2 separate regions of the Homo sapiens genome follow, and region 2 is linked to region 1. A link means that fine-mapping ties the variant in region 1 to the expression of a gene that starts in the linked region. Tissue or cell type: whole blood. Region 1 holds a variant in brackets; the other region holds the start of a gene. All regions are shown on one strand. Distances are from middle to middle.

The links. PIP is the estimated chance that this variant, and not a neighbour inherited with it, causes the effect.
Region 2: it holds the start of PFN2, and the variant in region 1 is fine-mapped to the expression of PFN2 in whole blood (INTERVAL, PIP 0.94).

What each region holds. Positions count from the first base shown.
Region 1 is chr3:150,018,510-150,026,975 of GRCh38, reverse strand. All of the region lies in intron 1 of LOC124909445 (a long non-coding RNA gene), which reads left to right. Among named protein-coding and RNA genes, the nearest start is that of PFN2, 52 kb to the right of the region's middle. RefSeq lists an enhancer at 3,418-4,617. The variant GTT/T (reference allele first, on the strand shown) is at 3,350.
Region 2 is chr3:149,966,869-149,975,100 of GRCh38, reverse strand. PFN2 (profilin 2) reads left to right here and starts at 4,206. Exons shown (of 3, transcript NM_053024.4): 1 at 4,206-4,376; 2 at 6,551-6,743. The coding sequence starts at 4,245. It overlaps LOC646903 (a long non-coding RNA gene), which reads right to left and starts at 3,822. Exons shown (of 1, transcript NR_036538.1): 1 at 1,859-3,822. RefSeq lists enhancers at 2,943-3,473, 3,474-4,005 and silencers at 3,851-3,910, 4,141-4,220, 4,431-4,670, 4,681-4,730, 4,751-5,010.

The DNA of each region.
Region 1 (8,466 bases):
CCCATTTGGTATAATATTGACTGTGGGTTTGTGATAGATGGATTTTACTATGTTAAGGTATGTCCCTTGATGTCAATTTTGCTGAGGTTTTTAATCATAATGGGTACTGGATTTTGTCAAATGTTTTTTCTGCATATATTGAGATGATCAAGTGATTTTTGTTTTTAATTCTGTTTAAGTGGTGTATCACATTTATTGACTTACACATGTTAAACCATCCCTGCATCCCTAGTATAAAACCCTTTTGATCATGGTGGATTATCTTTTTGATATGCTGTTGGATTTGGTTCACTAGCATTTTGTTGAGGATTTTTGCATCTATGTTCATCTGGGATATTGGTCTGTAGTTTTCTTTTTTGTTACGTCCTTCCTTCATTTTAATATTAGGGTGATACTGGCTTCATAGAATGATTTAGGGAGGAGTCTCTTTTCTCCGTCTTTTGTAATAGTGTCAATAGGTTTGGTACCAATTCTTTGAATATCTGATAGAATTCAGCTTTGAATCTCTCTGGTCCTGGACATTTTTTGTTGGCAGTTTTTTATTACCCTTTCAATCTTGCTGCTTGTTATTGGTCTGTTCAGACATTCTATATTTTCCTGGTTTAATCAAGGGGATTGTATATTTCCAGGAATTTATCTATCCCCTCTAGGTTTTCTAGTTTATGGGCATAAAGGTGTTCATGATAGCCTTGAATAATCTTTTGTATTTCTGTGCTGTCAGTACTAATATCTCCCATTTCGTTTCTAATTGAGCTTATTTGGATTGTCTCTCTTCTTTTCTTGGTTAATCTCACTAATGGTCTATCAATTTTATTTATCTTTTCAAAGAACCAGCTTTTTGTTTCATTTATCTTTTGTATTTTTTCCCAATTTTATTTAGTTCTCCTCTGATCTTAGTTCTTTCTTTCCTTCTGCTGGATTTGGGTTTGAATTATTCTTGTTTCTCCAGTTCCATGAGGTCTGACCTTAGATTATTTATTTGTGCTCTTTCAGTCTTTTTGGTGTGGGCATTTAATGAACTTTCCTCTTAGCAATGCTTTTGCTGTATCCCAGAGGTTTTGATAGGTTATGTCACTATTATCATTCAGTTCAAAGAATTTTTTAATTTCCATCCTGATTTCATTGTTGACCCAACGTTCAGGAGCAAGTTATTTAATTTCCACATATTTGCATGGTTTTGAGAGTTCCTTTTGAAGTTGTTTTCCAATTTTATTCCACTGTGGTCTGAGAGAGTACTTGATATAATTTCAGTTTTCTTAAATTTACTGAGACTTGTGTGTTGGCCTATCATATGATCTCTCTTGGAGAATGATCCATGTGCTGATGAATAGAATGTATATTCTAGGGCCAGGCACAGTGGCTCACACCTATAATCCCAGCACTTTGGAAGGCCAAGGCAGGTGGATCACCTGAGTTCAGGAGTTCAAGACCAGCCTGGCCAACATGTCGAAAACCCATCTCCACTTGATCTTAGCCAAAAGGCCAAGAAGCGATTGGAACCCCATCTCTACTAAAAATACAAAAAAATAAAAGATAAAAATTAGCCGGGTGTGGTGGCAGGCACCTGTAATCCCAGCTACTTGGGAGGCTGAGGCAGGAGAATTGCTTGAACCCAAGAGGTGGAGGTTGCAGCAGTGAGCCGGAGCCAAGATCATGCCATTGCACTCCAACCTGGTGACAGAAGGAGACTCTGTCTCAAAAAAAAAAAAAAAAGCATATTCTTCAGTTGCTTGGTAGACTGTTCTGTAAATATCTGTTAAGTCCATTTGTCGTAGGGTACATTTAGATTTAGGTTCACTGTTTCTTTGTTGACTTTCTGTCTTGATGACCTGTCTAGTGCTGTCAGTGGAGTATAGTCCCCCATTATTATTGTGTTACCATCTATCTCATTTATTAGGTCATAGTAATTGCTTTATAAATTTGGGAGCTCCAGTGTTAAGTGCATATATATTTAGAATTGTGATATTCTCCTGTTGGGCTAGTCCTTTTATCATTATATAATGTCCCACTTTGTCTTTTTAAACTGTTGTTGCTTTAAAGTTTGTTTTGTCTGATATAAGAATAGCTATTCCTGCTTGCTTTTGGTGTCCATTTGCATGGAATATCTTTTTCCACCCCTTTACCTTAAGTTTATATGAGTCCTTACGTGTGTTTATATGAGTCCTTAAGGGTTAGGTGAGTCTCCTGAAGACACAGAAACTTGGCTGGTGAATTCTTATTCATTCTACTGTTCTGTATCTTTTAAGTGGAGCATTTAGGACATTTACATTGAATGTTAGTGCTGAGATGTGAGTTACTATTCTATTCATTGTGCATTTGTTGCCTGAATACCTTGGCTTTTTTCATTGTGTTATTGTTATATAGGTCCTGTGAGATTTATGCTCCAAGGAGGTTCTGTTTTGGTGTATTTCAAGGATTTGCTTCAAGATTTAGAGCTCCTTTTAGCAGTTCTTGTAGTGCTGTCTTGGTAGTGGCAGATTCTCTCGGCATTTGTTTGTTTGGAAAAGACTGTATCTTTCCTTCATTTATGAAGCTCAGTTTTGCTGGATACAAAATTCTTGGCTGATAATTGTTTTGTTTAAGGAGGCTAAAAAATAGGTCCCCAATCCCTTCTAGCTCATAGGGTTTCTGCTGAGAAATCTGCTGCTAATCTGTTAAGTTTTCCTTTGCAGGTTACCTGATGCTTTTGCCTCACAACTCTTAAGATTCTTTCCTTTGTCTTGACTTTAGGTAACCTGATGATTATGTGCCTAGAGGGTGTTCTTTTTGTGATGAATTTCCCAGGTGTTCTTTGAGCTTCTTGTATTTGGATGTCTAGATCTCTAGCAAAGCCAGGGAAATTTTCATCGATTATTAGCGCAAATATGTTTTCCAGACTTTTAGATTTCTCTTCTTCCTCTGGAACACCAATTACTCACCAATTATTTGGAAGGTTTAACATAGTCCCAAACTTCTTGGAGGCTTTGTTTATTTTAAAAAATTCCTTTCTCTTTGTCTTTGATGGATTGTGTTAATTCAAAAGCCTTGTCTCCAAGCTCTGGAGTTGTTTCTTCTGCTTGTTCGATTGTATTGCGGAGACTTTCCAGTGCACTTTGCATTTCTCTAAATGTGTCCTTGATTTGCATAAGTTGCGATTGTTTTTTATTTATGCTATCTGTTTCACTGAAGAATTTTCCTTTCATATCCTGTATCATGTTTTTCATTTCTTTAAGTTGGATTTTATCTTTCTCTGGTGCCTCCTGTATTAGCTTAATTCTGAATTCTTTTTTTGGCAGTTCAGAGATTCTGTCTTGGTTTGGATCCATTGCTGGTGAGCTGGTATGATCTTTTGGGCGTGTTAAAGAACTGT[GTT/T]TTGTCATACTACCAGAAGTGTGTTTCTGGTTCCTTCTCATTTGGGTAGACTATGTCAGAGGGAAGACCTGGGATTCAAGGGCTGCTCTTCAGATTCTTTTGTCCCATGGGGTGCTCCCTTGATGTGGTGTTCTCCCCCTTCCCCTAGGAATGTGGCTTCCTGAGAGCTGAACTGTAATGGTTGTTTTTGCTTTTCTGGGTCTTACCACCCAGCAGAGCTACCAGGCTCTGGGCTGGTACTGAGGAGTGTCTGCAAAGAGTCCTGTGATGTGATCCGTTTTCAGGCCTTGCAGGCATGGATACCAGCACCTGCTCCAGTGGAGGTAGCAGGAGACTGAAGTGGACTCTGTGAGGATCTTTGGTTGTGTTTTTGTTTAGTGCACTGGTTTTGTGTTGGTTAAGCTCCAGGCAGGAAGTGCCACTTTCAAGAGTTTATCAGCTGCGGCCCTGTAAGGAGGATGCAAATTTACCCTAGGGAGACCTGGTTAAGTATTCAGGTTTCTCAGGCAGTGGGCAGGGCCATAGAGCTCCCAAGAGATTATGACCTTTATCTTCCGCTACCAGGGCAGGTAGAGAAAGACCATCTAGTGGGGACAGGGATAGTGTGTCTGAGCTGAGCCTCTCCTTGGGCGGAGTTTGCTGCAGCTGCTGTGGGGAATGGGTGTGTGGCTCCCAGTCCAAGGGAGCTATATTCCCTGGAGGATTATGGCTGCTTCTGCTGAGTCATACAGGTTGCCAGGGAAGTGGGGGAAAGCTGGCAGTCACAGGCCTCACTTCACTCCCACTCAGCCCACAGTCCTAAAGGCTGGTCTCACTCCCACCGAGGCCCTGCAACAGCACCAAGTCTATTTCTAGGCAGCCCATGACCAGGGCTGAGAACTTGCCCCAGACCATGAGCCTCCCGGCTGAGAAAACAAGTTAACTCACAGTTTTTCAGCATCTCAGGGAGCCTGCAGCAGTGATCCAGTTCCTTCAAACTGTCTGTGGATTCTCTCGGCTTTCCTGGTATGTGCCTGAGAAAGCAAGTTGACTCAGTTTTTCAGCATCTCAGGGAGCCTGAAGCAGTGATCCAGTTGCTTCAAACGTCTGTGGATTCCCTCGGCTTTCCTGGTATGTTCCTGTGCTACAAGAATTGTAGCAAAAAAGCTCATGATGTGAGTCTCCACATGCTGCTCTCTCCATATGAGCAGGAGCTGCAAGCTAGTCCTGCCTCCTATTCGCCATCTTAATCCTGGTTTGGGCTGATTCCATGTCTTTGCTATTGTGAATAGTGCTGTGATGAACATACATGTGCATGTGTCTTTATGGTAGAACAATTTATATTCCGTTGGGTACATACCCAATAACGGGATTGCTGGGTCAAGTGGTAGTTCTGTTTTAAGTTCTTTGAGAAATCTCCAGATTGCTTTCCACAGTGGCTGAACTAATTTACACTCCCACCAGCAGTGTCTAAGTGTTCCCTTTTCTCTGCAACTTTGCCAGCATGTCATTTTTTGACTTTTTATTAATTGCCATTATGACTGGTGTGAGATGGTGTCTCATTGTGGCTTTGATTTGTATTTCTCTAATGATTAGTGATGTTGAGAATTTTTTCACATGCTTGCCCATGTGTATGTGTTCTTTTGAGAGTATCTGTTCATGTCCTTTGCCCATTTTTTAATGGGGTTATTTATTTTTTGCTTATTGATTTGCTTAAGTTCCTTACAGATTCTGGATATTAGACCTTTGTCAGATGCATAGTTTGCAAATATTTTCTCCCATTCTGTAGGTTGTCTGTTTACTCTGTTGATAGTTTCTTTTGCTGTGCAGATGCTCTTGGTTTAATTAGGTCCCACTTATCAATTTTTTTGTTGGTTGCAATTGCTTCTGGAGTCTTTATCATGAACTCTTTCCAGGGCCTGTGTCCAGAATGGTATTTCCTAGGTTTTCTTCTAGGTTTTTTGTAGTTTTAGGTTTTACATTTAAGTCATATGTCTTTGTGTAAGTATTTATGAGTTGTAATTTTTTTTTTTTTTTTGAGACAGAGTCTCGCTCTGTGGCCCAGGCTGGAGTGCAGTGGCACGATCTCGGCTCACTGCAAGCTCCATCTCCCAGGTTCATGCCCTTCTCCTGCCTCAGCCTCCCGAGTAGCTGGGACTACAGGTGCCCGCCACCATGCCTGGCTAATTTTTTGTATTTTTAGTGGAGATGGGGTTTCACCATATTAGCCAGGGTGGTCTCCATCTCCTGACCTCGTGATCCACCCACCTTGCCTCCCAAAGTACTGGGATTACAGGTGTGAGCCACCGCCAGCCTATGAGTTGCAATTTTTTAAGTGGAATTAACGAATGAGAACGTGGCCAGGCATGGTGGCTCACGCCTGTAATCCCAGCACTTTGGGAGGCCAAAGCAGATGAATCACTTGAGGTCAGGGGTTTGAGACCAGCCTGGTCAACATGGTGAAGCCTCATCTCTACTAAAAATACAAAAATTAGCCGGTTATGGTGGTGCATGTTTGTAATTCCAGCTACTCAGAAGGCTGAGGCACAAGAATCGCTCGAACCTGGGAGACAGACGTTGCAGTGAGCCGAGATCACGCCATTCTACTCCAGCCCGGATGACAGTGAGACCCCATCTAAAAAATAAAAAAAAGAATGAGAATGTTTTAGAATACCCAGGACTGCAATCAAGGTCACCTAAGTTTAATTTCTGGGAAGCAGATTTGAAATTGATTGAATTTAGTGAATAAAAACTGAATCAATTTTATCATGAGATGGTGAGAATGAAGCATAGAAAAAGAAAACCCAGTGAGCAAAAAGTATACATTGTTGTCCAGCATGCTCAGTCAGTGCGAAAATATTTATTGAATATCTATGATAGAGCAGGCACATGCAAAGGAGTGAGACACTGACTCAGACAAACAGGAATTCAGCCCTAGAAAGATTCTCTCTCTGAGGAGGTACTGCTAATCTATTGCCCCTGTCTGTGGCCTTGATCAGATTTCATCTTCACTGAGCAACTTCAGGTTTATGCCCTGATCCTGCATGTTATACATGAATCTTTCAGGCATTTCAAAGAATGTCTCCCAATAAAACAACCACTTTCAGAATCATAATAGCAACATCAGTGTTTACTTTGCACCTGACAGCCACTAAACACTTTACAATCTAATTTAGTCTTTGCAGTTATTCTCTGAGGTACGTAGTATCTCCGTTTTCTAGATGAGGAAACTGAGGCTTAGCAAGATTAGGTCAGTTGTCCAAGATCACATTGCTCCACATAGTGGCAGAGTGAAGATAAGGACATAGTTCTGAGTCCAAAGCCCGTGGTCATAATCCCTGAGCTATCCTGAGTCTAGGATTCTGGTTTAGACAATTGGTCCTTCATTAATCAGTTGAAACAAATCAGTGCTTTGCTGTCCATCAACTTTGAGTGACCTGATAAAGCTTAATTTTTGCCTGACAGCAGGCCTTGACCCAAGATTACATAAATTCATGGCACCATAGTGAAAGGCTTAGCTTGGGAGCCAGTGCACATCCCAGAAGGACATCTATCTTACTTTTGCCCTTCTAATCCCAAAAAAGGTAAACAGCAACAAGGACCACAGTGTTTATGTAACAGGAAAAATGGCCCGTGTGTGAAAGACATAGTATTCTTCCTGAGAGGTTTTCTTCCATGTCACTGCTACTTGCAAGTATCTTACAAGGCTATTGATTAAGAGTTTTATTCATTAACAGCAGTGAGGTTACCCTAACTAATACAGTTTCACTGTGAAGATATTTTCTATTCAGACTTAAAAGACTAATTTTGCCAAGGAGTTTGCAAAGCCCAGAAGAGTAGCTTTGAAGACATTGAAAGTGAGGTTCAAAGGACAGCTCATATTTTGTTGTGGCTTTATTCAAAACATTTATGGCAATGATGAGTTTATTCGGATGATATGAGAGGGAATAATATTCTATTAATGATTTTTTGAAGGCATCTATACAATTTCATCTAAAAAATCTCTTGTGAAATTCACAGTCTTTAAAATAAAATGAATAGGCTTATCATTTGGGTTCTGATGCCTGTGTTCTCATCGGCTGAATGGTGTGTTCTCATCTGCCAAATGAGGGGTAGAGATGAATGAGCCGGGAAGTACCTTCCAGCATCAACATTCTAGGCTGGCTCAACATGGGAAATTTAACTTAAAGTAGGAGTAATCGCTTATTACAAACAGTTCAAGACTTAGGGACAAATGAAGCTTCTCGCTCGTCTTAACTCTGAGCTTGGAGCAGAAGTCATGAAGTGTCTGTGTAAGAATGTGAGCATATTTACAGACACCAGCTGATATAAAGGATTCTAGCTACATTTTAACTAGGCTATCATTTTTTTAAAAATCACATACATTGTATGACTCTACCTTAAATAAAATGATTAATTGAAGTATTTCTTTTTTTGTGCAAAGTAGAGTACTGCTAGATCCTCGAAAGGTTTCTAAGAGAAAACACATCAAGGCGCAGTGGCTCACGCCTGTAATCCCAGCACTTTGGGAGACCAGGGCGGGCGGATCACGAGGTCAAGAAATCGAGAAAACATATCAGCTCAGCTAGGCCAATTTGACTTCCTCTTCCTTCCGTCATTTTCTTCACCCCTTTGTTCTCTGTCCTTTGAACTCCTCCTCATTAGAGCCCCTGGCTCTCTAATTTCACAGTCCCACCATTTGACATTGAATTCACCTTTCCTTTTGACAGGACCTGCTGCTTTATCTTTTCCCTTTTCTAACTTTGCAAAGATAAAATCTTATTTCTCAATGAAAACTGAGACTCAGATACAAGGTATACCCAAGAATTGACTTAATTGTCAAAGAAAATTAGTGATGAGTCAGATAACTGAGCTAACCCAAATCCAATTTTAAATCTGGTATAATAATGGTCCTTTTTCAAACTCAGAGCATAACCAAATCACTACTTTTTGAAGGCTTCATGAAACTCAATCAAGCATACAGCAGGGTATGTGAATGGCAATCTTTACAAGAATCATTAGTACCAGCCTGCCTTTCACCGGCTTGAACCTAACCAAGCTGGAACAACCTCAGGTATAACTAGAAACTGAAATCTAAACAGCAAATTTTAAGCTTCTGCTCCGTTGAGGGTTAAA
Region 2 (8,232 bases), 52 kb after region 1:
AAAAATGATCATAGAATGATCTGAGATATGAAAAGGAATAGTAAGTAAATAAAATACAAACATGTAAGTACATATATATACACACATACATAAACATCTGTGTAAGAGTCTGGAGAGAGGTGTCCAGACTTAAAACATTCTAAGGTTTTTGGATTGTCTAGGGGTAGTGTTTAAGATATTTAACTTAAAACTTTATTGTATTAAATATGCAAGGCAAAAATTTAAGGGTAACACTAAGAAAAATTGGTAGCATAAATTTGAAAAAAAAAAAAGAATAAAACACACATGCCCGACATTTTTTTTAAAGGCAAGGAAGAAAAAAGCATAGAAAAAAAAAGAGACTAATAAAATTAGTTCAAACAAGTCCAAATGTATGTCAATAATTACAATGAATGTAAATGGAATAAACTTGCCAATTAAAGGTTATACTGCCATATTGGATAAAAAAACAAAATCCAGCTGCGTGAAGTTTATGAGACACAAAATAAAAAGGACAGAGAAAGGTTGAAAGAGAGGTGGGGAGCGAAAAGATATATAAGGTAAACACCAATAAAAAGAGAGCTGGGATGTTACCTTAATATTTGACAAAAATTTTAAGACAAAAAGCAGTATTGGTGATCAAGAGGGCAACTACTAAATAATAAAGAATAAATTCATCAGAAAGGAAAAATATAACAATTTAAATTTCCATTTTCCTAATAGCCTCAAAATATAAAAAGCAAAAATTCATAGAATTTCAGGGTAAAATGGCCAAATGCAGAATTATAAGTTCTCCTTGTTCTTTACTGTAAAAATCATACATAGTGAATACATTCAAAAGATATTTGTATTAGCTTGTGGGATTAAGGATTTTTCTCCATTTTCTAAACTTTATTGCTGTGATATTGATTTTATAATTCATATACTTTTTTCAGAAATGAACTATGCGGTGAAATTTTTAAATAACTGATGGTTAATTATGGTTTTACTAAATTTGGGGGTAATTACTGTGTATAGTTTTAGATCCTGCTCCCAATGATTATCAGGTTGTGTACATTTTAAAGATAATTTCTTGTTTGTGTTTTGCTAAAATTTCAAATGATTTTTACATGGACTCAAGTGGTTCAGACACCACTTGACTTACACATTAAAGAACGTGGCTTACTACACAGTTTCTGCTTTACTCAATAAGAATAAAATAATTCTGGAAAGAATGCATAATAATGCACTCCAAACTTAAATATGCTACTGATTGTTAATGGCTACATTATTCTGGCTATTTGTATCAACAACACAGCCACAACTTTTCTAAACTTCTGCCCAGATATTACAATTATCCTAGGGATTACTTACTCTCAGAAAAGTAGAGGAAGATACAAATTGGCAATTCTTTTTCTCACACTGATACTCCTTTGGACTTAAGTGAACCAATATTGTTATTACTAAAGCTCAGTATTCCACCTCTATTTATACTTTCTGAAACGTATAAGCAACACTTAGATGAAATAGGAAGGGATCACTGTACACAAATGGAAAATAAAGCAGCATGCAAGGAAGCTGGTTCTAAAGAAAACAAGCACAGGTGGCCGGGCATGGTGGCTCATGCCTGTAATCCCAGCACTTTGGGAGGCCGAGGCAGGCGAATAACGAGGTCAGGAGTTTGAGACCAGCCTGGCCAACATGGTGAAACCCCGTCTCTACAAAAAATACAAAAAATTAGCTGGGCGTAGTGGCGGGTGTCTGTAATCCCAGCTACTTTTGGGAGGCTGAGGCAGGAGAATCGCTTGAACCCAGGAAGCGGAGGTTGCAGTGAGCCGAGATCATGCCACTGCACTCCAGCCCTGGTGACGGAGTCTCATCTCAATAAACAAACAAACAAAAAAGCACAGGTTACTTTATTACAGTACTGAAAACCAAGACAGCACATGGACTCTCTTTGAATATATAACCTAAAAATTGAAACTGTAAAATTTAATCTATTATACAGAATTTTTTTCATAGTTGTTTAAATTTTACTGTTTGCAATTCTAGAAAAATAACATCATGTTGGAAAAGTAAGCAGTAATTTAAAATGAATTATATTTTGAAAAATATAGAAGAATGACAAGAATTCTAAATTTTTGTGAATATTTTACCCAAGAAATGTGTTTTAGAATCTTTTGAGATTTGAATTAGAAAATATTGTTGGTCAAATTCTTTCACTGTTTAAAGCCAACAATAAAAGAATAGGAAAAGAATGTAGTTATTTCCAACTCTGTGCTATAACAATAAGATAGTAACGTCTAGAAATTATATCTTAAAACCTTCAGAGTAAATTAATAAAAATTCAACATACTTCAAGTTATCACTGTATTTTTTCTATAATTACCTTTTCGTTTACTGTTTCAATTTATTGAATTATACATACAATGAAGAGCACAATAAATGTACATACAGCTTGATGAATTCTCACATAGTGAGCCTGTGTTACAAGTAATCTATTATTAACTTTTAAGATGATACAGTGCTATGATCGAAGGACTAAAATGATCAACATCACCATAAAAGGCAGAGTCATAAACAAGAACAATTAAGTGTAATTAAATCAGGTGGGAGGCACACTTACAAAAATGAAACAATTTTTGGTTCACATTTTACACCACACAGGTATTCTGTATCTTTAGAACATGAGAAAATACATATTCTCAGTCTGATAGGTCTCTGACTTGGGGGTTTCTTTTACTGTACTTTTTTTCTCTCTAGTAGCTGAACATTTTAAAGCAATCAGCAGAAAAAATATAAAACTTCAGAACCAATTAGACTTTTAAAAGCAACGTTCTTGCCCTTTCCAGAGATACATTCCTTAATCCTCCTACAAATCATGACCTCACACGATAACTTTAAGGGTGAACATCAACTTATCTACATTTTGGTGCTTTCTTTCCCTTAAGTGGCAGATGGTTTCTATTAACCTAAAATTGAAGTCATTGTTGGGGGACCCCTAATTCCATGTCTAGTCCTAGTGCCCAGAGGCTACCAAAGACGATACGAATAGCTTCTCAGGCACTCTACCCACCGTTTACCTTGTTAATACAAATCTTTCCCAGACCTGGGTCCCGAAATTATTTTACCCTGCAGAGCAGAAATGTTACGGTGTTCATTCAGTGAACTCTTCCCTAGTTTTTAATCTTTGTATTTTCTGCGTATACTTCAAGCCACCAGTAACTTTCCCAGTTACCAAGAAACAGTGTAACACAGGTCGCTATTTGTTTTGTTCGGAATTTACGAGCAATTTAACCACACGTGATTAGCAACATTAAGGGGGCTCCTCCAGGCAAAGAATCCACAGAATGAGAGGCCCTTGGTACCCAAATGAAGCAACAATGAAAGATCGGCGAAGCTCAGCAAGGTTCCTGAGCGCCACGGACGCCTGCTCTGATTTCAGGTTGCCGGCGCGCGCCCGCGGGTCTGCCTTTATGGACGAGGCGCAAGAGGGATCCAGGAAAGACGGTGCCCTTAGAGACTCGGAGATTAGCGTGGGCAACCCTGCCACCAGCTGCCCCTGCCACCAGCCGCCCCCACAACAAAAAGGAGGAAACGCTCCGCATCCCGTCACCAGGACAACTCTGTAACCCGACACCGAGGCTCAAGATTCCGCATCCCGGGCAGCGAACACAGGAGAAAAGCACATCGCGGCCCGGCCGCGGGGCTCCAAGGCGTCCGTGCCGCCGCTGTTCCTGGGGTGCCGAGAGCGACGCGGGGTCCACCCTCTCCGCCGGCCCGAGGTCCGAAGCTCGGCCCGCCACCGCTCCCGGCCGGCGCCTCCCGCACGTGGCGGCCGTGATTGTCCCGGGGCGGTATCCCTCCGCGCCCCCGCCTCAGTCTCCCCCCGCCCTTCCCGGGACCCTCCGTGCCCGGGCGCCGCGGAAGGATCGCACGCACGCGCGCGCGCACGCCCAGCCGTGTCCGCGGAAAACGGAGGGCGCTGCGGTAAGGAGCAGCCGCCACAGGCACAGCCGCTTCGCAGCCTCCCGCCGCTGGTTTGTCAGCCCCGCGGCTGCGGGCGGCCGGGCGGCCGAGCGCGCTCTGAGGTTCGTCCCTCATCGCTGAACCCGCGTCCTCCCGCCGCAGCTCCTCGGGGAGGGGGGCGGTCGGTGCCTGCGCAGAGCCGCCTCCTCCCCGCCCCCGCCCCGCCTCCCCCCGCGCCGCCGCCGCCCGCTACCGCCGCCGCCGCCGCTGCGCCTGCTGCTCCTCGCCGTCCGCGCTGCAGTGCGAAGGGCTCGAAGATGGCCGGTTGGCAGAGCTACGTGGATAACCTGATGTGCGATGGCTGCTGCCAGGAGGCCGCCATTGTCGGCTACTGCGACGCCAAATACGTCTGGGCAGCCACGGCCGGGGGCGTCTTTCAGAGCATTACGGTGAGGACCAGTGGCGGCCGGTACCCTGGTCCCTGCACCGGAGCGGGGTGGCCGGCCGCGGGGGCACCGCAGCGCGGGGCTGGAACACTGAGGGCCGAGCCCGCAGGTGTGCTAGGCAGCGGGCGCCGAGGATGCGGCTGCCGGGCGGGCGGGGAGGCCGAGGCCCGGGGACGCCCCCTCACCCGGGGCTGCGCTGACAGGCTGGGGGCGGCGGCCGGACTCCTTGCTGGCCCTGGCCGGGCGCCCCCGGCGTTCCCAGCGTCGGTCCAGGTGCCCGGGTTGGGGGAGGGGGCACGCACCGGCCAGGGCAAGGGGAGGGGTTCCTTTTTTCCTCCTAGTGCGGTTCCCCTAGGTTCTCTTGAAGCCCTGAGGTTTGCTATGCACGTTCTGGGGTGGAAGCGGGGGTCGGGGATCCGGGCTGGGGCGCGCGGGCCCCGGGTGGAGGTCCCTAGGCTCTCTGGCCGGCTCTTGCTCCGCGGACAGCGCGCCTCCCGCGCCTCCGGCTGTGGGAGGCGGCGGCCCCGGCCCGGCCCCCGGGATTCTCGAAGCGACTTTGCGTAGGTTTACCGATGTCCAGGCCTCTGGGGCTTGCGAGAGATGTACGCCGACCGCGTAGGTGGATTCGTGAATCTCGACTTCAGCTCTAGCTCTATAGGTTGTTTTTTTTTTTTTTTTAAATTCTCCAAGATGGCGAACTGCCATTGATTTCTCTTCTCATATGGAGATTCATCGATATACGGTTATCCCCAGTTATGCAACATAGCTCAAAAAAGGGGTGCTTTTCGGGGGCTTTCAATTATCTGCGAAGACCAGGAGCACACTTCACTTCTCTAAGTCCCTCCCTCTTTAGTGGTGGCAGTAAAGGAACTAATGCAGTTTTATGCTTCACATTGCCTGATTTTCTTGAGACTTGATGGTTTTGAGTTGGTTGCAATATGTTTGGAGAATATTTGCCACAAAACCTCCAGCTTATTGTTTTGCCTGTTTCTGCCCAAGGCTGTTTCTAAAATTATGATAATTGTACTAAATACGAGACCATTCTCTTTATTTCTTAGCACCACGCTCCCTTTCCATTAAGCACCAAAATTCAGGTCCCCTATTAAGGGTGCTAATTATTCTTTTACCACTTAACATGGTTTAAAGTCTAACTTTAGAACTCAGTCCTTGATAGTAGTACTTTAAGGTCTCGTATACCCGCAGTGGACTACAATTCTTGTAGGGAATTGGCATCTGGTCATCAACTTTTTTCCTGCAGTCCTCTTGTCTTTGTGTGTGAGTTCCCGCTGTCTGACTAGGAAGATTGCGGGAGTGTGCTTGGAAATGGCTGGGGCCTGCTATGACTCTGCAGTTCTGATGGGGGCGACGCCTTCCTTCTTATTCATGGAATGTTAGAATGCACGTTTTCTCCTTTCCGGTTCTGGTGGCTACCTCAGTTTCTTTCCCAATCTCCCTCCATTTTTTCTGTTTTACTATTGCCTACCGCAGTGCTGTAGACAGAATCCACTTTGCGTTTGCCCAGAAAGAAAACTGATTACTGAGATGGGAGGGGAAGGGAAGTTGGAAAGAAACGGGAGTCGTGGCTAGAAAAATAGGAGGGAAATATGAATTTGGAAAAGCACTGATGTCCAGGGGTTGAAGTCCATCTCATCACGTATATTTCTAGTTACTCTAAGCAGAGAAGTGAACACATCAAAGAACAGGCTTTATTTTGGGAGACTTTGAAGCAACTTTAAATTTGATGAAACATGATTTACTGTAATGGGACTGAATATGATAGACCAGCTTTGTTCAGAGTTGATAGCTGAATTTTTACCATTACGTGAACACTTTCAGGCACCAGCTGACTTAATACAGTTTATAAATAACTCTTTAAGTTTGCACTTTGTCTAGTGTCAACTGTCAACTCTTTACAGTTTCTTTGTATAGACTGGTCTTGGTTAAGAGACGACATCATTAACTGAAGTCAAATCAACTCATGTAAAATATGTGATTATATAGGATTAAATAATTATTTAGAAAAGACTGAATCTTGGTTTTACATTAGTGAAATGTGGCTATCTGGCAGTGGTAGCATAAGCCTAGCTACAGCCCTTCCTGTTACATCAAGCCCTAAAAGGAGTTAACTACAACTTAATGTGTGTGTGTTTTTTTTTTTTCTTTTTGGTGGGGGGCAGCCAATAGAAATAGATATGATTGTAGGAAAAGACCGGGAAGGTTTCTTTACCAACGGTTTGACTCTTGGCGCGAAGAAATGCTCAGTGATCAGAGATAGTCTATACGTCGATGGTGACTGCACAATGGACATCCGGACAAAGAGTCAAGGTGGGGAGCCAACATACAATGTGGCTGTCGGCAGAGCTGGTAGAGGTGAGTAAGGCATTCTTTTGGTTAAAGTTGCATGCCACATTACAACTTATTAAGCAGTTTCTTTTAACATTTTGAATAAAAGTTAGTCCATAATGGCTATTAAGGTGGTTTTTGTGAACTGCCCAGCACTATGGAGAAGCACTGCTTTAGTTTTACCTACTCTACAGCATCTATGACCTGGCCTCTTAGATCCTGATTTTGTTTCTACGATAGAATATTCGTATGAACTCACTTTCAGCTTTATTAAACTTAAAAGTCTCTTAAACTGCTTGACATGTCAAATCATAATCCTGTGGTGTTTCAGATTGTTAAATTGTTCGAATCACTTGGTTATTTTAGTCCCTTTTGGTGTGTGTTTGACCTTTGGATCTCTTTTCTTTTTTTTCTTGCTTGTATTCTAACCATTTCACTACTCAGCATAAAGAAGGAAAAATTAACATCCGTTCATTTTTCAGTTAGGAACTTTGCTGGGGAAAAGATAATTAGATGAGGATTTTGGAGTAAGTTGTCCATTCACTGAAATATTTTCAAAGATTGTGTCTGAGACTTAGATTTGAAAAGTAGGAAATTACATTTAGTTTGTATACTTGGTCCAGAAATTCAGGTGTCTCCAGACTGTTGTCAGCATTATAGAAACTCTTAATTGCACTAAAGAAGTCTCCCTACTTTTTCAAAATAAACTTTTGAAATTGAGTTTTATTATGACATCTAATTGATTTACAAATACATTTTAATGTGTTAACGCATACGAATATTTTGTAAATAGAGAGTGCTTCTGTAGCCTCACATAGCTGACTTGGCACATCTAATTTTAATAACAGCTCTACCATGTGAGGGGAGTTGAAGCTGCTGTGAGTTATAATTAATGCTATGGCTCTACCAGCTCCCTGTGATTATCCTAAAAGTTACTCGTATTCTGGTGTGAGTTGATGTTTATAAGGATTTATAAGAAAATTAGATGACTTTGAAATAGTGACAAATCTCTTTAAACCTTAGCTGCACTATACGCTGAAAAGAAGCGTCAAACACAAGACAAAAAACCAGAATATTTTATACGATACAGCACTACTGACATCTAGTGGTAGTGAATATAAAATTTGACATATACATATATTTTGGGTTATACACCTTTGAATTGCATCATAGAAGAGCAATTAGAAATCGTAAACCTATTTTTTTAGACGCAATTAAAAACAAGGCTACTACGGTGAAGTTATCAGTAAGCAAACACCTTAAATAATTTAATTTGGCCTTTTCTGAATGATACTGAGTATGCTACTTAAAATTTGATCTTCATTTTCCTCTGGAAATAATAGATACATTTAGCCTCACTGGTAAAACTTAATAGTTTAAACTTATCAAGCATGTTAAAATTTGGGGAGAGTTTGTAAGTAAGTAACTCCCCAGGTTTATTAAGTTTATATTTTGGGGGCAAGTAATAACATGTACTTGACATCAGCCAGAATTTTTTTGCCCTAAAATAGAAGAC